Linked DNA regions of Homo sapiens: region 1 is linked to region 2. The links come from fine-mapping of genetic effects on gene expression. A gene starts in region 2. The other region holds a variant in brackets. All regions are shown on one strand. Distances are from middle to middle. Region 1 holds the start of CSTL1 (cystatin like 1). Region 2 holds the start of GZF1 (GDNF inducible zinc finger protein 1).

Region 1 (9,272 bases), 79 kb before region 2:
GAAATAGTTTATCCAGGGCATGGTGTATATCAAAGACTCGCAAATTAAACTCTGTAGAAGAAGAAAGAAAACAGACTTTGGGGGAAGTATTTTTCAAAGGCAAGCAACAGGCACCTGTTCCCCAGGTCTCTCCCTGTGGCTGCTCATGAACCCCATGGGCAGAGAGGGGAGCTGCCCACAGTCAAGGGTAGAAACAGAAAGGAGTGCCAGTCTGGAACAGGAATGTCACCCTGTCTTCCCCCTACCCAGCCACTTGGGACCCACAGCAGGTGAACCTGGAGTCTATGGCCTGGCCGGACCCTGTCATGTGGGCCAGGCAGGCCAGCAAGGAGCAATAGCATCGTTACCTCCTCCTGCACCTCCCCAGGCATGGGGGAGCCCCTTGTATCTGCCAGCTTTCAAGGGGTGCCACTCATGGACCAGGAAAAATAGAAGGGAACAAGGAGGAAATTGGACAACCTTAGAGACCTGGAGAGGGAGAAAGAAGACAGAAGAAGGACCCCAAGGAAAGGGAACCACTGCTTTCACGCAGAGGGTCTGGGGAGCAGGCCAGGTTGGAGAAGGGTCCAGGCAACCAGAGGCCTGGGTGCAGGGCTGTACCAGCCCAAATATAAAGCCTCCCTCCTTCACCCAGGTGCCTCAGGAGGTGCCAGACAGCCCCAGGGCTGGGCCCCAGCTGGCCCCAATCCACACAAGTGGCAAAACTGCCAACTTCTAGCTGTTGCTTTTTAAAATATTCACTTCACAAGTCCCTTTGGGATGACTTCCACTACACACCTTTCTCAGCTTCTTGCTTTGCAGGGGGCAGGAAGAATTGCTCGTGTCATTCCTCTTGCATTTGGTCCAGCCAATCTTCACAGTGACTATATACTCCACTCCCGTCGTCAGCTGCCGAGAATCAGTTGTGCTGTTAGTGTGGACTCCAAGCATCCAGTGGCTGACCCTCTCCTGGAGAAGCTAGGACTGAGAGTAAAGCTCCCAGGGCCACAGTTCTTGTTCGCGGAGCTTACCCACCAAAAGCATGGCTCCCTTCTCCTTACTTCTGGCTGGAGGGAGGGCAATGGCAGCCAAAGCCCCTGGTCATAGGTTGGTTTTGCTGCAGCAGCCACAGAAAGCTTCTCACCTGCCTCTGTTCCATCCTCAGGACAGAAGAGGCAACATCAAGCTGGGTTGCCTGGCCACCACAGGCCACTCCCAGGCTGGCAGATGTGGCCTTCAAAATGCAACAGAGCCAGCATCTTGTCCCCACCCCCCCAGTCCCTTCTGCCATTTCCTCTGTCTCTACTATCCTTCCTGACCAACCTAGTGGAAGGCAGCTTAGCAATACAGTTAAAAACAGTTTTGGAATCGAATTGATTTGGGGCATGCATTTTCCATTTAGTGACTGTGACCTTGAGCAAGTTACTTAGCATCCTCAGCTTTTTCACTTACAAACTACAAACCACAATTGTGCCTGCTTCTGGAGTTGTTATGTGGGCTAAATGGAAGCTTGCATTTCCCTGAATGCATAAAATAAATTTTAAATATTTTCATAATTATAAGTTATTACATCTTTTAGCAAAGTGTCTGCAGTGTTACTTTGAAGCAGATTCAGTGTTAGGAGAGTGACAGAACACAAAATCTGGCTTTACCCCCTGCAGACTCTGTAAATTTTACTGAATCTCAGTTTCCTCATCTAGGAAATGAGGAGAATAATGCCAGTTTCCTCCTAGCGTGTACAGAAATGAAGGAAGGAGGCATGGTGGGTACACGAGCCATGGAGAACGCATGCCAGGGATTTCCCCATGGCTCTTTCACTTGTGATCAAGTGTGAGGCCATGAAGCCTGCAGGGGTTGGAGCCTGGAAAAGCCCTTGTGGGCAGGGAGGCCCTACGCCCAGAAGGGAGACTAACAGAGAGCTTGGGGGTTACGGTTCCCTGTCGGGTTCTGAGCTGGATTCCTGAGTAGATATGTGGATTAGTGGATCTTCACCGGTGCAGGAGAAGCTCTGGGAAGCTCCCTGTTGCCTTGCCCTGTCACTGGTCAAGCCCAGTGAGAGGGCTTGGTCATCTCTGGGGTGGTGACTGAGGCAGAGAGTGCCCACACTGCTCCTGGGAGGAAGACACCCTTAGCAAACACTGGGACAGGGCAGCAGGGAGCCTAGACCTGAGGGCAGTACCAGCCTCCCCGCACCCAAACATGTGGGGGCCATCCATGCATGGGCATTTGCAGGGCTGCCCCAGGCACGGTCACACTGACTTTCAGCATGCTCAGAATGTAAGAAAAAACTAAACCACCCGTCATCACTGTAACTGACATTCCAGTGTGCAAAGTGTTATTCGTTATTAGACTTATTTGTTCGATAATGACAGGAGTAGTCATAATAACAGCAAAGATTTTTTATAAGTGCTACCAGATGTTGGCACTGTGCTAAGTGCTTCCCTCCTATTCTGAGGCACTTTGCAGGTGAAGAAACTGAGGTCTGGAGAGTCTGGATGTCACTTGACCAGGAGCCTCAGTTGGGAGGAGCTGGGCGTGAAGCCCCCAGAGGCACCTGGCAGCCCTCCACGCCTGCTCTTGTCCCCTCTGTGAGGTGTAAGGACAGACACAATGGTCATATGGGTGTGGGGGTGCCCAGAGGCCCATGCCAAGATCACCCAGCTACCAGGAGGCACGCCTGCTCTGTCTGCTTATCAATGTGAATGACATCAAATGCTCATCATTATTCCTTAACAGCTAACTTAATGGTGATGGATTGATTTCACAAGGCAAGCCTCCTTGGGGTCTTAACCAATTGTGGAAGAACCAAGAACCAAATGGGCAACATCGCCATCTTGTGGTAGAAGTGCCTCACTGAGCCAGCCTGTGGGACAGTCTGCATTGGGATGAGGATTTGACCTATGCTGACTGGTCCTCCCCACGCTGCCCTCCCGCCTTGCCGGTTCTCTCTGTTCCAGCTGCCTTACTCTCTGGCGAGAGAGCTTTCCCATAGCCAGTTGTGTTTTCCCAAATCTAGCTAATTGAACTAGGACGTAGCATTGTTGCTGCCCCAACTTCTACAGTCAGCCCTCTGTACTTACGAGCTCCATATCTGTGGATGCAAACAACCGTGCATCAAAATATTCAGGAAAAAAAAATGTATGGTTGCCTGTATACTGAACATTTTTTCTTGTAATTATTCCCTAAACAGTACAGTATAATAATTATCTACATAGCATTTACACTGTACCACTTATTATAATTAATCTAGAAATGATTTACCATATGTGGGAAGATGTGCATAGGTTATGTGGAAACACTATTCCATTTTACATAAAAGACTTCAGAATCCATGGATGTGGGCATCCTGAGGGGTCCTGGAACCAATTCCTCATGGACACCAAGGGGACTGTATAGTTTATTATCTGACCTTGAGGAAATGTTGTACCAATAAAAGGGGTTCCCTAACAACTTTTCTTTCTTCTATTATCCTTCAATTGATATATTTCAGAGAAATTTTATATGTAAAACAGAAGGTGAGGTGATCTGGCTGAACCCTATCTCTCACATCCTCTCCACTTCCAGAATAAACCCTCTGTATAATTTGAAGTTTGTATAACACAGAACACCCAGTTTTGAATTTTACAACCCTACACATTGAAAAAATATTGGGGGCTACAGGCCTACAGAGAATATTTGTATTTTGCCAAATGAGAACTTTAAAGGGAGCAAAATTATCCTTGCTGTCACTCCGGCAGGGTCAAATATCAGAATGAAAGGCATTTCTTCCCAAGGAAAAAGAGCTGGCCGGGCGTGGTATCTCACGCCTGTAACTCCGGCACTTTGGGAGGCCGAGGTGGGCAGATCACCTGAGGTCAGGAGTTCGAGACCAGCTTGGCTAACATGGTGAAAACCGGTTTCTACTAAAAATACAAAAAATTTAGCCAGGTGTGGTGGTACGTACCTGTAATCTCAGCTACTTGGGAGGCTGAGGCAGGAGAATCACTTGAACCTGGGAGGAGGAGGTTGCAGTGAGCCAAGATCATGCCATTGCACTCCAGCGTGGGCAACAAGAGCGAAACTCCATCTCAAAAAAAAAAAAAAAAAGAGTTTAATCCTCAGTGAACACTTTTGCCTCTAAGTGTATTGGAGTTAGAGTTCATGCCAGTCCTTAGGAAAGCATTTTGGAAGCATGGCTAAGGACATTCTGGGATCTGAACAACTCTACAATGTACCTGCTACAAGTGAAGATGCTTCCCCCTTGGGACCTCACGGAGGACCACCACTTGGTTCTCTTGGGAGCTACCCCAGAATCCTCACATGTCTGAACTGGCAAGAACAGGGCCTGCTGATGTCTTGGGAGAGCAAGGTACAAACCTGCATCTGACTTCGAATTAGCCTCTGGACTCGATATAAGTAGGTGTCGTTGCTGGCATTGTTGTAGGATTGAATGAAGAAGTTGAGTGTTGAATTCATGTTCTTCTTGCTCATGAGCTTCTGCTGGAAGCCCTCCCACCTTTGGAAGTGACCCAGCTTGGCTGACAGGACCAGGGCAATCAGCAGCAGCAGGGGGTTTCTCCAGCATCCGATCCCCATGTCTACAGCCTCAGAAACTTTCTTCCCAACTGCACCTTCCAGGGTGTGGTGGTGCCAGGCTGCAGTTCACTCATTCTCCCATCATAACCCTCACCAACATAGGCTTTCCTGGGGGATGGCCTGCCTGCATTTAAACAGAGATTCAGACCTGAACCTTGTCACTCAGTTTCCAGCCAGTTCATTTTCTACCCATTTACACCACCCATTCAGTTCTTTGGTGATCCAGGCAAGCAAAATTTTTAAACACCTGCTAAGGCGTGCAAGCCCCTCTCCCTGCCTTCACATGTCTCAGGGAAGAAAAGCCCCAGAACAGCCCCTACAGTGCTCTGCAATAAGAGCTGGGGTTGTAGATAGAGAAGCATCACTTACAGGAAGGGAGGCGGCCTTACGGAGAAGGTAATATCTGAACTGAGATATAAGGAAGCAGTCATATGGAGCAAGGAGTGGTACATTATTCTTACCTTCCTTGGGTTCCAACTGTCTTACAAAGCCACCACCTGTTCCCTGTGCTTCCTTTACAGACACGTTCTCCTTGCTCACCTGCCGCCCGCCCACCACAGATTTCTGCTTGCAGGATCCCCCTATACCTGCAGGCCCTGCACTGGCTTTTGCTATCTTGTTGTGACCCTAGTGGAGCTTTGTGAGGTAATTGCAGCCTCCCTATGAGGGAGGAATAAACTGTGAGCCCCATTTAGAAATTATCCGCAGACCCCTGAAGATTAGGTGTCACTTACCCCCAAAAGCCCATGAATG[C/G]CCTATTTTAAAAACATTTGCTGGCTGGGCGCGGTGGCTCACGCCTGTAATCCCAGCACTTTGGGAGGCTGAGGTGGGTGAATCACCAGAGATCAGGAGTTCGAGACCAGCCTGGCCAACATGGTGAAACCCCATCTCTACTAAAAATACAAAATTAGCTGGGTGTGGTGGTGTGTACCTGTAGTCCCAGTTACTTGGGAGGCTGAGGCAGGAGAATCACTTGAACCCAGGAGGTGGAGGCTGAAGTGAGCCGGGAGGGTGCCGCTGCACTCCAGCCTAGGTGACAGAGCGAGACTGTGTCTCAGAAAAAAAACAAAAAACAAACAAAAAAAAACACCTTAAATGGAATCCTACCAGAAAAAAACATTAGTGGAATAGTTGATGAAATGTGAATAAAATCTGCAGATTAGTTAATAGTATTGTGTGAATGTTGATATTCTAGTTTTCACCGTTGTACTGTGATTGTATAATATGTTAACATTTGGGGAAGTGGAATGAAGGGTATACGAGAATGCTTTATGCTATTTTTGCAGCCTTTGTGTAAGTCTGAAATTATTCCAAAATAAAGGTTAAAATGTCCAAAACTAAATAAAGCGTTGTTCTGTGAGGAGTAGCGTGCTGAGGGAGGGGAAGCAGGAGACTTAGGATCCAACTGTCCTGGCTCAAGTCCTTCGCTGGGGACTCTGGGAGAGTTACCTCATCTCCCTAAGCTGGGTTTCTTCACCTGTAATATGAGAATGGGGAGAAAGACTCCACTTGAATTGTGGTAGAGACTAACTGGATGTAGGCAAAGAACCTGCTCCCAAGTCAGGTGTCAGGTGCATAAGAATGTCTTCTTCGTGATTCTTCTGTGACTCTGAACCCACACTTCACCCATGGCCTGTCATGTCCCGGAAGCCAGGCCACCTTCCATCATGACAATGTTGCTAGCACCAGTCACAACATCCTCCCTTGGCCCCAGAGCCTGTCTTGAGAGGACTTGTCCAGCCGGTGGAGGTGATACATTTGAAATTCCCTGAGCCTGAGCTGCCGAGGGCCACTTGCTGTAGAATAGATAATGAAGGATTCCGAGTAATCCGGGAAGCCACACAGACCTGTGCCGTCTCAGCATGCCCCAGACACCTGGGATACCCCCATCAGGCTGAGGCCCATAGAGAGGAAAAATAACATTGGGTGGGCCATATTAGAAACCCCATGGATGTGGGGCTCAAAGCATAAACAATAAATCTGCTTAAGAAATATGGGAGTTGGTTGTGTCCATAAAGAGGAAAATGAGTCACTGGCAATTTTAATTGAAGAAAAGGAAAACATAGACCCTGACTATGCCACAGAAAGAGATGTGAGGCGCCTAACAGGTCACACTGGCGTTCCTTAGCTTGTGTCAGCAAAATGCTGATTTCTGACTCTGTGGACATGGAATCAGGAAAAAAATATGATTCTGGTAAGGTACATGTATAAAGGGAGACAGGGAGCTTGGTTACAGCATGGAATAGGGGCAGAGCATAGTGGCTGACACCTGGGAGGCTGAGGCTAGGAGGATTGCTTCAGCCCAGGAGTTCCAGACCAGCCTGGGCAACATGGTGAAACCCCGTTTCCACAGAAAATACAAAAATTAGCCAGACATGGTGGCCCACATCTGTAGTCCCAGCTACTCTGGAGGCTGAGGTGGGAGGATCACCTGAGCCCAAGAGAGGTCGAGGCTGCAGTGAGCTGAGATCACACCAAGCACTCCAGCCTGGGCGACAGAACAAAGGGAAATAGAGGGCTTAGTTGTTGTCTGGTTACTGCCATGAAACAATGGAAAAATAGGGGCCTGAGTATTTCCGTGGAACAAGAGTAAATTAGGAGTGCTGGCTATAACAAATAGGAGCCCTGTTCTTGCCAATAAAAGAAGGGAAAAATATGAGCTCTGGTTAGACCATGGAATAACAGGAAATATGAGGTCTGCTCATGTCTGTGGAATAAGGAGCATAGGAGAGAAGGATTGCAGAAGGGCATGAGAAAACTTCAGGTGATAGATATGTCTGTTGTATGAATTGTAGTGATAATTCCACAGGTGCATACGTATGACAAATTTCATCAAATTGTACACTTTAAATATGTGCAATTTGGCCAGGCGCCGTGGCTCACACCTGTAATCCCAACACTTTGGGGAGGCCAAGGTGGGCAGATCACATGAGGCCAGGAGTTCAAGACCTGCCTGGCCAACATGGTGAAACCCCATCTCTACTAAAAAACACAAAAATTAGCCGGGGAGCACATGCCTGTAGTCTCAGCAACTCTGGAGGCTGAGATGAAAGGATCGCTTGAGCCCTGGAGGTCTAGAATGCAGTGAGCTGTGATTGTGCCACTGCACTCCAGCCTGCCCAGCAGAGTAAGACCCCGTCTGAAAAAAAAAAAAAAAAAGAAAGAAAGAAAAAGTATGTTTCCCAGGAGTCCAGCAAACTGGGCCTCCTGTCTCATAAGCTGAACCTGGTAACAGGCCACTGCTGGACCAGGCATGATGGCAAGTGTGGGATTCCTGTTGGATCAACCCGTGGCTGGGTGCTGTGTGGGCGAGATGGTGTGTGTCCCACAGAGGCCCCCTATGAGCTGCACAACTTCCTGGTTCTGTCTGTTGACGACCAAGCTCAGGATTTCTTTATCAGTCCAGCTCCTAGGAGAAGCAGGAAATAAACAAGAACATGATGATGTGTTTTATCCCAGCAGGCTCTGCTTATGTGGGCTGAGGAACCTGCAGACAGGGAGCTTCCTGGCTGTAGTTCTTCATCACTCCTTCACCAGTAGATATGGCATTGGTGCTGGGAAAGGGTCACACTGTGACACTCTCTTCATCAGCCGACATCTGCTATCTGAAATTTTCTGATCATTCTGGGGAAACAAATAATCCTCTGTAAACAACACGGCTGATCTCGGTTGGTTTCTTCTCTCCACTCTATTTTTTTTTTTTTTTTTTTTTTTTGCATGTAGCACTATTTGACAAGCTCTTCTTTGTCCCCTAAATAATCCTGTTCTAGGCTGGCTGCTGACCTGGAGATAACCCAGGCAGAAAGCAAATCTATTTGCGACCCACCTGCTGCTGGGCACCCTCCAAACATGGCCCAGGAAGGAATGGTCAGCAGTCTGTGCCTGCTTGAGGAATCTCCCAACTGTGGCTGCAGGGCAGGGGTAGGGGAGCACAGTCCATGCTGCCAGCAGCAGCTCCCACTGCAGCCCTGAGCCCTCGCCCCCAGGGCAGCAGCAGAAGAACATGGCTGATCTTGGCTGGAAATGCCTTCTGATTCTGGGGAGCAGGCCAGCAGCAGGCGCACAGAAAGTCAGCAAACAAGGCGGTGCTACAGATGGCTCCAAGCTGGCATCGCTCCAAAGGTCCCAGGGTACATTTTCTCTTTCCAGACACAGAAACATGAGAAATCACAAGGCTTAAAAAGTGAGAGCGTGTCACAAGAGGCCAAGGATGCCCAGAGTGGAGGGGCTTGTGGGGAGGTCATCGTCCTCATCCAGCCTTTGGTCTCCTTTCTGCAGACGTTTTCCACAACACAATATCTGTTTACCAGCTCTTAAATAGTCATCAGGTTCCATTTTGAAAGCAAAGAAAAAGCAGGTGGATTCTGCAGGCTGCGACACTCCTGCTTCCACCTTCTCCTGCGATCTGTCTGGTTTTCTGTAAGCAGATGCTTTTCCCACTGAAGCAATGAGCAGCAAAAGCGGAAGAGGGCCAAGAGTCTGTTGAAATCTGTAATTAAGTCTTCAAGTTCAAATCTTTTGCCCATTTTTCTGTTTGGTTGTCTTCAATTGATTTGTAGGATTTATTTATCCTTCTTGCAAATGTCATCCTCTGGGTTGTGGTTGTCTTTTCATTTTATTTATGGCATGTTGATGAAAAAATATTCTTAATCTTAATGGAAAGAATGTATTGATTTTTCTTTCTTGTGGTTTGCATTTTTTATGTCTTATTTAGGAAA
Region 2 (9,272 bases):
GTCCCGGCCAGCAGGGGCGCCCCAGGGGTCTCAGAACAAGGGAGCAGAGCCATCACTCGCAGCCCCTGTACCTTGACAGAGAACTAAACGCTGTCTCGAAATAAGCCCCCAGGTTTGGAGCGGAGAAATTAAGCAGTGAGACATCAAATCCCAGGACGACCTCAGTGCTTGACACACCCTTCCAGTGCGCAGGGACCCCTCCGGACGGCTCCCCGCGTACCTCATGTGCGTCTTGAGCGCGGACGGCTGCGAGAACCTGGCGCCGCACTCGGTGCAGCCGTAGGGCCGGTCTCCCGTGTGTGTGCGCTCGTGCAGCCGCAGCGCTGTCTTGGAACTCAGGCCCTTGCCGCACTGGCCGCAGCGGTGCCGCTCGCCGCCGCCCTCATGCACCTGCAGCACGTGCCGCTTCACGTCCTTCTTGCGCTTGAACTTCTTCCCGCACAGCTCGCATGGGAAATGGCGCTCGCTGCTGTGCACGTGGCGCTGGTGGCTCTTCAGGTTGCAGCGGTTGGCGAAGGTCTGGCCGCAGGTGTCGCAGCGGTACACCACCTCGGTGGCCACGCCGTGGCGGTGCTTGCTGTGCTTCAGGAAGCTCTTCTCATACAGAAACGCCTTCTCGCAAATGCTGCACTTAAAGTTGCTCTTCTTCTTCTCCCCTTCTTCGTCCTCCTCCTCCTCCTCCTCTTCCTCCTCCGGCCCTGCTTTCTTTGACAATTCCTCCAACTCAGCACCTGCCTGGCAACCCTCATTTTTGGAAACCTGCTCCATCTCCGTGCCCACCCTGTCCGGGCTTTGGTCCTGGGGACACCTGTAGTCCCCCACATCACCCTCAGCAGTTTTCTGCTGCTCTCGGAGTCTTCTCGTATATTTCTTTTTAGGGATCTCCACAAAGACCTTCCTCCCAGCCAGCCTTCCACTAGCTCTCCTGATTTTAGGGTAGGGAGGTTTAACTACCTCTTTCTTCTTGTCTAGTTTGTCCTTGGACTTCTTCGGTGGCAAATCTGAAGACATGCCATTGCTGGCTCTCTCTCCTGGGTAGTCCAAGGAATCCGTGAGACCACTGGGGTGAGGGCCATCGGTGGCCACACTTGCCCTGGGGGCAGGAGCAGCACTAACTTGGGAGCCACTGCTCACCTCCACCTCCTGAGACTCTGAGAAATTTTGCAACTCCAAAAGTACTGACTCTAACATCTGTTTCTTTAATTGAAAACAAGTTTCTGATAAATCCAAACATTTCAGCTTTTCAGCCACTTCCAGCATTCGCTGCACCCGATCTTCTTCCACCTGTACCTTTGCAGTGTAGACAAACTCAAGAAATGAAGCAAAGTCAGCAACCTGCACTTCATTTAAGTAGACATTAGTCCTAGTACCATCCACACTCTTCTCATTAAGGAACACTTCCTTAAAAAACTTGCTGGTGGCAGCCAGCACTGCCTTGTGGGCCATGAAGTCTTTGCGGACACCCTGATACTCCACGCTGACTGTCACGTCACACAGGTGACCCAGGAGGCGAAGCTCATGCATCTCATGCAGTAGGTTAAATGGGGAGGATTTGGATTCCAGCAGAACTGCACCGCTTTCCATCTTTCTTCCTTCCAAAAACAGCTTTGAAAAAGAAACAAGAATTATGCATGAGCAACCACTGATGCAAAAGGACTAAAATTTATGAGGATTCCTTCAGTACTTGAGAGGATATAGACTCATTAACAACCTAGCTTTACTCAGGTAAAGATTCGAATGACATTTTACTTCTTAGCAGTTTTCTAAAGTGAGGTTCCTCATGCATTTTCCTAAGGTAATAAATTGGCATGAAAAATAGTGTATTCTAAGGTTTCCTCCAGTGATAAACAAATGATGGAAGTTGTGATTAGTGAAATACATTAACACAGTAATTTGCTCACCAAGGTCACTGTCTAATTTGCTTACATAGTCCCCAAAACTGTAAAAGAATTCATGGCAACAATAATGTCTAGTTCTCTGATCAGGAAACCAGATAATTAAAACACATAGCCACCACCATCTGGGAGCAAATCCAAAACCTCAGGGAATCATTTCTGCCTTTGAAAAGAACCAACTAAATAACTACTTTCCATGAGGAAAACTTCTTGGAAAAGTAGTTCACAATTCATCGCCCATTCCCAACATCCTAAACTCCTCAGAATTTGAATTATTGTTACTCTACTGAAATAATGTTAAGTTCCACAGCTTTTACAAGCTGTGCTACTTTGAGCAAGCAACTTCTCTGAACCCATTTCCTCCTCTGAAGAAGGCTGACCGGCTGTTACCAGGGTTCCATGAGCCTGAAACTTGTTGGCTAGTTTATTGGTTTCCCACACATAGGCCAAGGTGCTACAGTGATCCCCATTTCATAGATGAGGACCTATCAAGGTAACAGTCAATGGCTGGTTGGGACATGAGCCAGGGCCTGGTGCCCGGATTCAACTCAGACTACTCAACACACTCTTCCCCTCAGCCTTGCCAAAGGCAAAGGGCTATCTTTAGCCCCTAAATCTTTCCACTGCAGCGGGCATGCAAATTTCACCAACCCCACCTAAGGCCTCCAGATACCGTCACCCCATCGTCATTTCTGCTGCTTTGCCACAAACTCCCTGAATGTGTTTTCTCCCTGCCCTTCAGCTCCTGAATCTACCTTCCTCTTTGATTCCTGTTTCCATCCATCCAAAGCACATGCCTTCCTTCTAGCCTCCTTCGGCCAGACCACAGATGTCACCTCGGATTCAACGTGTCTAGAAAAAAAGTTGTCATCATCTTCCCTGATAAACTAGTCCCACCCCTCTCCCCTTCTCCAGTCTCATCAATGAGACCGCTCCCCACAACTAGCAGTCCCTCAAACATGGAAAAGACTGCCCTCTGGGAGTTCCGCTGTAAACAGGTACCTATGAGGCTTGATCAATGTCGCCTGAAGGAGACGCCCCAGTAAAACTGTGAGAACACTGACAAAGCCTAAGGAAGGGATCTATAAGAGTGGGGCTCTTATAGAGCCACTGGGGTTTCAGTGGTCCCAGCCCCAGCCTGGGGAAACAAGACTGCAGAGGGCTCTCTCAGCCTGATGCCCTGACTTCCCCAGACCTCTGCCAACAGGGCCCTCGAGGAGACCTGATTTCTCAATCAACAAAGTGGGTTCTGAGCGCGATTTCCTATGTTGCTTGGCTACTGGAGTGCAGGCACTGGAGGTGGCGACAGGGCAGTCTGCGGCCGGTGACAGCTGCGTATCCGCCGAATCTCATTGGCATTCCGGCCGCCTCCCAGTGCGCCCGGCATCTGCACCAACGTCGGCGGCCCCTGAATCCCCGAGGCTCACGGGGCCAGAGCCCTTCCAGGAGACGCTGCTACCCGCAGCCCAGTCCACGGCCACAAGGGCCGGGGTTTCCAGTGGGGCTTAAATCCGCCGCTGTCCTCGCCGCCCTCACGGCACCTCCCACCCTTCCCGCGCCACTTGGCCGCCCCAGCGCCCGGACGCCGCTCGGCCACTCCAAAGACGACCCAGAGAACAAACTACTGCAGCCACAGAGAAGCCCCTCCTCGGCCCGACGCGCCGCCTCCCGACGCGGGCATCCGGGGCCGCGTGGATCAGGCCCTCGGGCCGCCCCCTGCCCCCGCTCCCGCATCCCCGAGACGCGCAGGTCCACAGAGCAGCCGGGGCGCGCGGACAAAGAGGCGGCGGCGGGCGGCGAGGGGCCGGAGCCAGGCCTACGGGCCGCGCACTCACCTCCCAGCCGGCGCCCCCGCTGCAGCCGCTGTCCGCTGGACCAGGCCGGTAGGAACGGCCGGCCCGGCTGGGCGTGGCGTAGCACCCTGCGCGGGCACCGCCGATTGGTCGCTGCAGGCCCCTCCCCTCCCGCGGCCGGCCCCGCCCCTGGCGGGGCTGAGGAAGGGGCTGAGCCACACGTCGGGCGGCGGAGCGGTTCGGGCAGTTACCTGATCTGGCCGCGCGACTGACTGGCGACGCCGGATTGCGTCACCCGCCGCATTGCGTCACCCGCCGCGAGCCAAGGCCTGCGCCTGCGCAGGAGACAGCGACGTCTGCGCTGCGGCACGCCACAGGGGGGCGGGGCCAGTCGCGAAAAGTCACGTGAGCGTCAGATTCGCGTGGTCACTTTCGCGTCCATTCCGGGCTTCTGGCCGCAAGGCGCCAGCGCTTCCGGGCCCCAGCAGCCTGCGGTCAGGGCCTGCAGCTGGCTTCCCACTAAGAGCTGCTCACGTCCCCGAGGCCGAGCGCACCCTTAGGGCACGGTGGCCACGCGAGGGACCTCGCGGAAAGCCGGGCTTGGAGCTGGTACTCACCTTGGCTACTAGGGGCGCAGATGCCTCCACGGGCGCTGGAGAACTGGCGCCAGGCGGGGCTCGGCGCGGCGCTCTCCTCTGGGGCGCTTCTTCCGCGGTGCCCCCGCCCTGCTGGGGGGCTCGGCGCGCCAGGAGCCGGGACCGCACCCTGCCGTCTTTACTGCAGGGCTTTATTTCCAGGAGTTCCCATTCGGGCGAAAGCTTTGTTCACTACAGAACTTCCCCAGAGACCCATCCACTCTTCGGGGAAAGCACAATTGATTCCCTAAGATTCGCTGACTCCTCGAAATCTTGCTGTTTCCACCAATTCTTGCTCAATACTAACTAAAGCCCGCTTTGAAACACCTTCCTTGAGTCAGACTTCCAGTTCTCAATAAACTGACCTTGCCTTTTGCTCCCAGCCATTGGTAAAGCTTTGCCAGGTCATGCTGTCCCTTACTGTGGCCAGCAGTTAACTCAGCCTTGTCTTACCGACACGTTGAGTTTGTAATGTTTGGGGACTGTCAGGACAAATACAAATTTAAAATAAGGTTTACTACTTCCTGTTGAAAATATGAGATTTCCCTCCCTTTTTCTTCGAACATTTACTTTTAGAAAATTGGTAATTAGTGTAAGTACTTTTTCCTCTCTTTGAAATATATAAATCCTTTTGAAGACTAGTTAGGCCTTTTTGTGCGCTTTATAACCTAGATATGTCTTTTTCTAGGACCTAGGAGCCATCTCTTTAAGTATCAAGGGAGTTAATGCCCCTGTCTCCCAGTTTTAATGGGGGAGTAGGAGCCTAACTTCAGTGGGCCCTTTGCTCCAACTTACAAAATTATCTCATATCATAAAGATACAAGTTTCTTTTTCCTCTAGATAAAGCCAATTGGCTAACACAGAGGATCATCCCAAATATCAGGTTAGATGAACTGTGTGTGATGAAAAATGCTGCCAAGTTCCCTTGAGAGCTAGTTATTGTTTATCTTGAAAATGTGTGTAATAGATTGCTTGGCTGCACAAAAGAGTGAGATTTCGTTCTGTCTTTGCAGTCTCTTAATGGATTGCCTGTGATGGGTATCACATTCTAGTTTAATGCTTATTCAATTACAAAGTGTTTTCTTTCTCCACTACCTTTCTGAAGAGGGTTGGGAGATTGTACTTTTAATTATATTTCCTGAACAGGAGCCAGCTTCCCACACATAGTAGGTGCTCAATAAATATTTGAAGAATGAATGAGTGACAGAAATCTTTCTTAGGCCGACTCTCTATATTTGCATTCCATGATTTGAAGAAATTGGAATGAACGCAGTTTTCACCCATGGCTCCAGCAGGCCCAGAATCGTGTTTTATGATTTTGTTTTGCATTACAAAAAGGTGGTCAGGCACGGTGGCTCACGCCTGTAATCCCAGCACTTTGGGAGGCCGAGGCGGGCCGATCACTTGAGGTCAGGAGTTGAAGACCAGCCTGGCCAACATGGTGAAACCCCGTCTCTGCTAAAATACAAAAATTAGGCCAGGTGCGGTGGCTCACACCTGTAATTCTAGCACTTTGGGAGGCTGAAGTGGGCGGATCACCTGAGGTCAGGAGTTCAAGACCAGCCTGGACAACATGGTGAAACCCTTTCCCTGCTAATAATACAAAAATTAGCTGGGCGAGGTGGTACATGCCTTTAATCCCAGCTATTCAGGAGACTGAGGCAGGAGAATCGCTTGAACATGGGAGGCAGAGGTTGCAGTGAGCGGAGATTGCACCACTGCATTCCAGCCTGGGCAACAGAGGAAAACTCTGTCTCAAAAAAACAAAACCAAATTAGCCGGGAGTGGTGACAGGCACTTGTAATCCCAGATGCTCAGGAGGCTGAGGCAGGAGAATCACTTGAACCCAGGAGATGGAGGTTGCAGTGAGCTTCGATCATGCCATTGCACTCCAGCCTGGGCAATAGAATGAGACTCCGTCTCCGATTATGTTAGCTAGCATAACATAATGCTAGCTTATCCATTCAATACTGAAAGGATTGCTTTAGTTGAGTGTCTTAATAGCTTTAAAAATAGAGGTCATAAGACTCACAGACTCTTTGTGGCAATACTAAATGATAAAGAATGAAGGGCCATGCCTGGCAAGGGTTGTCATGCACCTCTACACTTCAAGAAGAAACTATGCCTTAACTGCCACAAGGTTTTTATTCTCTGGCAGCCAAACAAGCACTGGCCTCTAGATAAGCAATATTCAAACAATGTGCTTTTCATCCACCTCCACATGCTGACTGACACGCCCCCTGCCCCAGCCCCACCACTTCCACAAATAATTACTGCTTTGATTGGACCAGAGACTGACTGCAGTAACTTTTTCCTGATGGGAAACAACCGAACAGGGGCTGATTCTGGCGGTTTACAGAGGCTGCACACAAGTGCATCGGTGTCCTGAAAAGATCTTTCAACTTATAGGGTCTAAATGTAATACATGAATACCTGTAAATGCTAAGAGTCCACCCCAAAGTAAACATAGGTCACCTGTAACATGCACGTTTGTCCAGTAAGCATGGGTCAGGACCCGTTTCATGAATATTCATAGCTCTTCCTGTGGCCTGTTCATATGTGTACTTGGCTAAGTCCTTCAGCTTAAATTCCTGTCTTAGGCCCCCTTCCCTCCAGCTGCCTGCCTTTTGAGCTTCTGCCAGAAGCTATGCTTCCCAGCCTGTCAGAAGGGCCACCTTGCAGGTTATCACCGTTTAAAGAAATAAAGCTCTCCTTTCTATGTTTGTGATCTTTTTTTTAAATAATACAAATAGACAATTCACTTGACAGTGTGAATGGCATACTTCACTGACAATGGAATACTATAAAAACAATAATAAACCACTGATAAACATCAACCTGACAAAGTTAAATATAGTGTTTCATGCTGTAGAACTCTGCACGAGAAAAGTACACGGGAGTGAACAATTGTTACGTAAGGGCGTTCACTGCAGTGCACTTACATTAGTGAAACTTTGGAAACAATCTCACCTATAAGGAGATGGCCGAAGAATTTGATATATCCAAGCACTGGATTATTATGCCGGTCATTAAAACAATGTTTAAAAATATGTGTAATAGCTTGGGGAAATGCTCACCATGTTATAATGAGTAAAGACGGTACACTATTTTACATAGGGTCTGATGTGATTTGAAAACAAATCTATAGAAATAGACTGGAAAGAAATGTATCAAATTCTAAACTGCACAAGGAAGAACACTGACGCACGCGCAACGCCGGCGCCCTGCCCACTAGGCGCCCTCGCTGCCCCTCACCTGCACAGCCGGCGCACGCCCACAGGCTCGTGAGGGAGCGGCCGGTGGGTCAGGCTGGGCGGCACTCCTCGCCCATTGGCTGTCCCGGAGTCCGGCCCCGCCTCTCCCCGCCTTCTGGAGCCGCTGGTATAGCTCCTTCCAGGGCTCCTTGGAGACGGAGGGCGGGGCTAGGGCGCCGGAGTCACGTGGTCGCGCCACCGCGCGATTACTAGCTGTCAAAAGAGTCCTCAGAAGTGTCCTGAGCGGTCGCAGGGTAATGACGTCGGCCGTATCGGGGATGCTGGAACCTGCGGTTGAGTGAGAAACCGGCGCCACCGCCTGCGTCTTGGTCTCGGGCTGGTGGCCAGCGGGGTCTGGGCGTGGTTTTACCCAGCTCCTTTGCGAAGCTGCTGTCCTTTCCTCAACGTTACCACCCGGCTGGGCAGCCTACCCTCGGTCAGTACGTCCTGGCAAGAGCGCTTCGGGCGTGGCGTTCGTGTCGCGGGGGCCTCGGCTCAGAAGCGAGGGAAGAGCAGCCCTCAGAGGAGCGGCGACCGCGCTTACCGGGAGCCCGGGTTGGGAGAGGGCTCCCCAGGAGGGGTGTGAGCTCCGAACGAGAAAGAACGCCACCGCCTCGTGGGGTCTCTTCCTAATGTGCAGATTCCAAATCTCTACAATGCTGCAAAAGAGGTTACAGTCCACATCAAATTAAGCATGCCCTAAAGGGCAGCTGGGGTTCAGTTCAAGAGTTGAGTTTTAACACACACCTTTACCTGCCTTAAAATTGGGCAAGGTATCACAACGTTAAACCATTTCTCACAAGGCTCGTTGGTGATGTTTAAGATTTTTTGTTTGTTTGTTTGTTTTTTGTTACGGAGTCTCGCTCTGTCGCCCAGACTGGAATGCAGTGGCGCGATCTTGGCTGACTACAACCTCCGCCTCCTGGGTTCAAGCGATTGTCCTGCCTCAGCTTCCTGAGTAGCTGGGATTACAGGCGCCTGCCACCACGCCCAGCTAATTTTTCTATTTTTAGTAGAAACGGGGTTTCGCCTTGTTGGCCAGGCTGGTCTTAAGTTTTGCATCCTGGCTCCCTCCTCTTACCTAGTCCCAGCCTCTTGTCTACAGGACAAAGCAACTTTCTGCAGTTTTCTGTTTGCTCTTTAGAGAGACGGGGCCCTAATTTGGCAAAGTGGTAGGGGAGACAGGGCTGGTGTTTAAGGTCGACCAAAGCAACATCTAAATCTCTGCTCTTCCCCCAAATTGTCCAAATTAGCAGCAACAGGTGTGCACCTTCCAAGCTTGCAACAGACCACATTCAGAAGCTTGATTTCTTGTTGTTCTGGGAATATCTGGATCAGAGGTAACATGGTTCACTAGGACTCCTCAGCTTCACCCAGTGTCCATTTCACCTCCCCCGGCCTTCCAATGTCTCTTCTTGCAGATTTCTCCAAGCCACTCTCCCCGTCATCTCCTCCACCCCCAGGACCCAACTCCTGCCCCTCCCACCCTAGCCCCTGTTCTCCCTGCCCACCTCCTACCCCACTGGAGTGGCCTTTCATCAAACCTAAACCAAAGAAACCAACAGACCTTGCTGTCACCACTACTCCGGGACCTGGAAGTTAAAGCGAGGGAGAGACGGTGAAACACAGAAAGCAGAACGCCTTCTGTTCTTCCACAACACAGGGTTTGTGGACGTGGCCACTATAAGAACTCGC

What was found. PIP is the estimated chance that this variant, and not a neighbour inherited with it, causes the effect.
Region 1: its variant is fine-mapped to the expression of GZF1 in whole blood (TOPMed, PIP above 0.99).

Annotation. Positions count from the first base shown.
Region 1 is chr20:23,435,550-23,444,821 of GRCh38, reverse strand. It overlaps CSTL1 (cystatin like 1), which reads right to left and starts at 5,137. Exons shown (of 4, transcript NM_138283.1): 1 at 5,016-5,137; 2 at 4,336-4,678; 3 at 778-888; 4 at 1-51. The coding sequence starts at 4,554. RefSeq lists enhancers at 1,817-2,396, 2,799-2,898. The variant C/G (reference allele first, on the strand shown) is at 5,308.
Region 2 is chr20:23,356,696-23,365,967 of GRCh38, reverse strand. GZF1 (GDNF inducible zinc finger protein 1) reads right to left here and starts at 3,786. Exons shown (of 6, transcript NM_022482.5): 1 at 3,731-3,786; 2 at 221-1,605. The coding sequence starts at 1,584. LINC01431 (long intergenic non-protein coding RNA 1431) reads left to right here and starts at 7,841. Exons shown (of 3, transcript NR_109884.1): 1 at 7,841-8,013; 2 at 8,831-8,917; 3 at 8,999-9,272. RefSeq lists enhancers at 2,187-2,246, 4,061-4,320, 7,746-8,135, 8,326-8,415 and silencers at 3,501-3,990, 4,411-4,500, 7,506-7,695.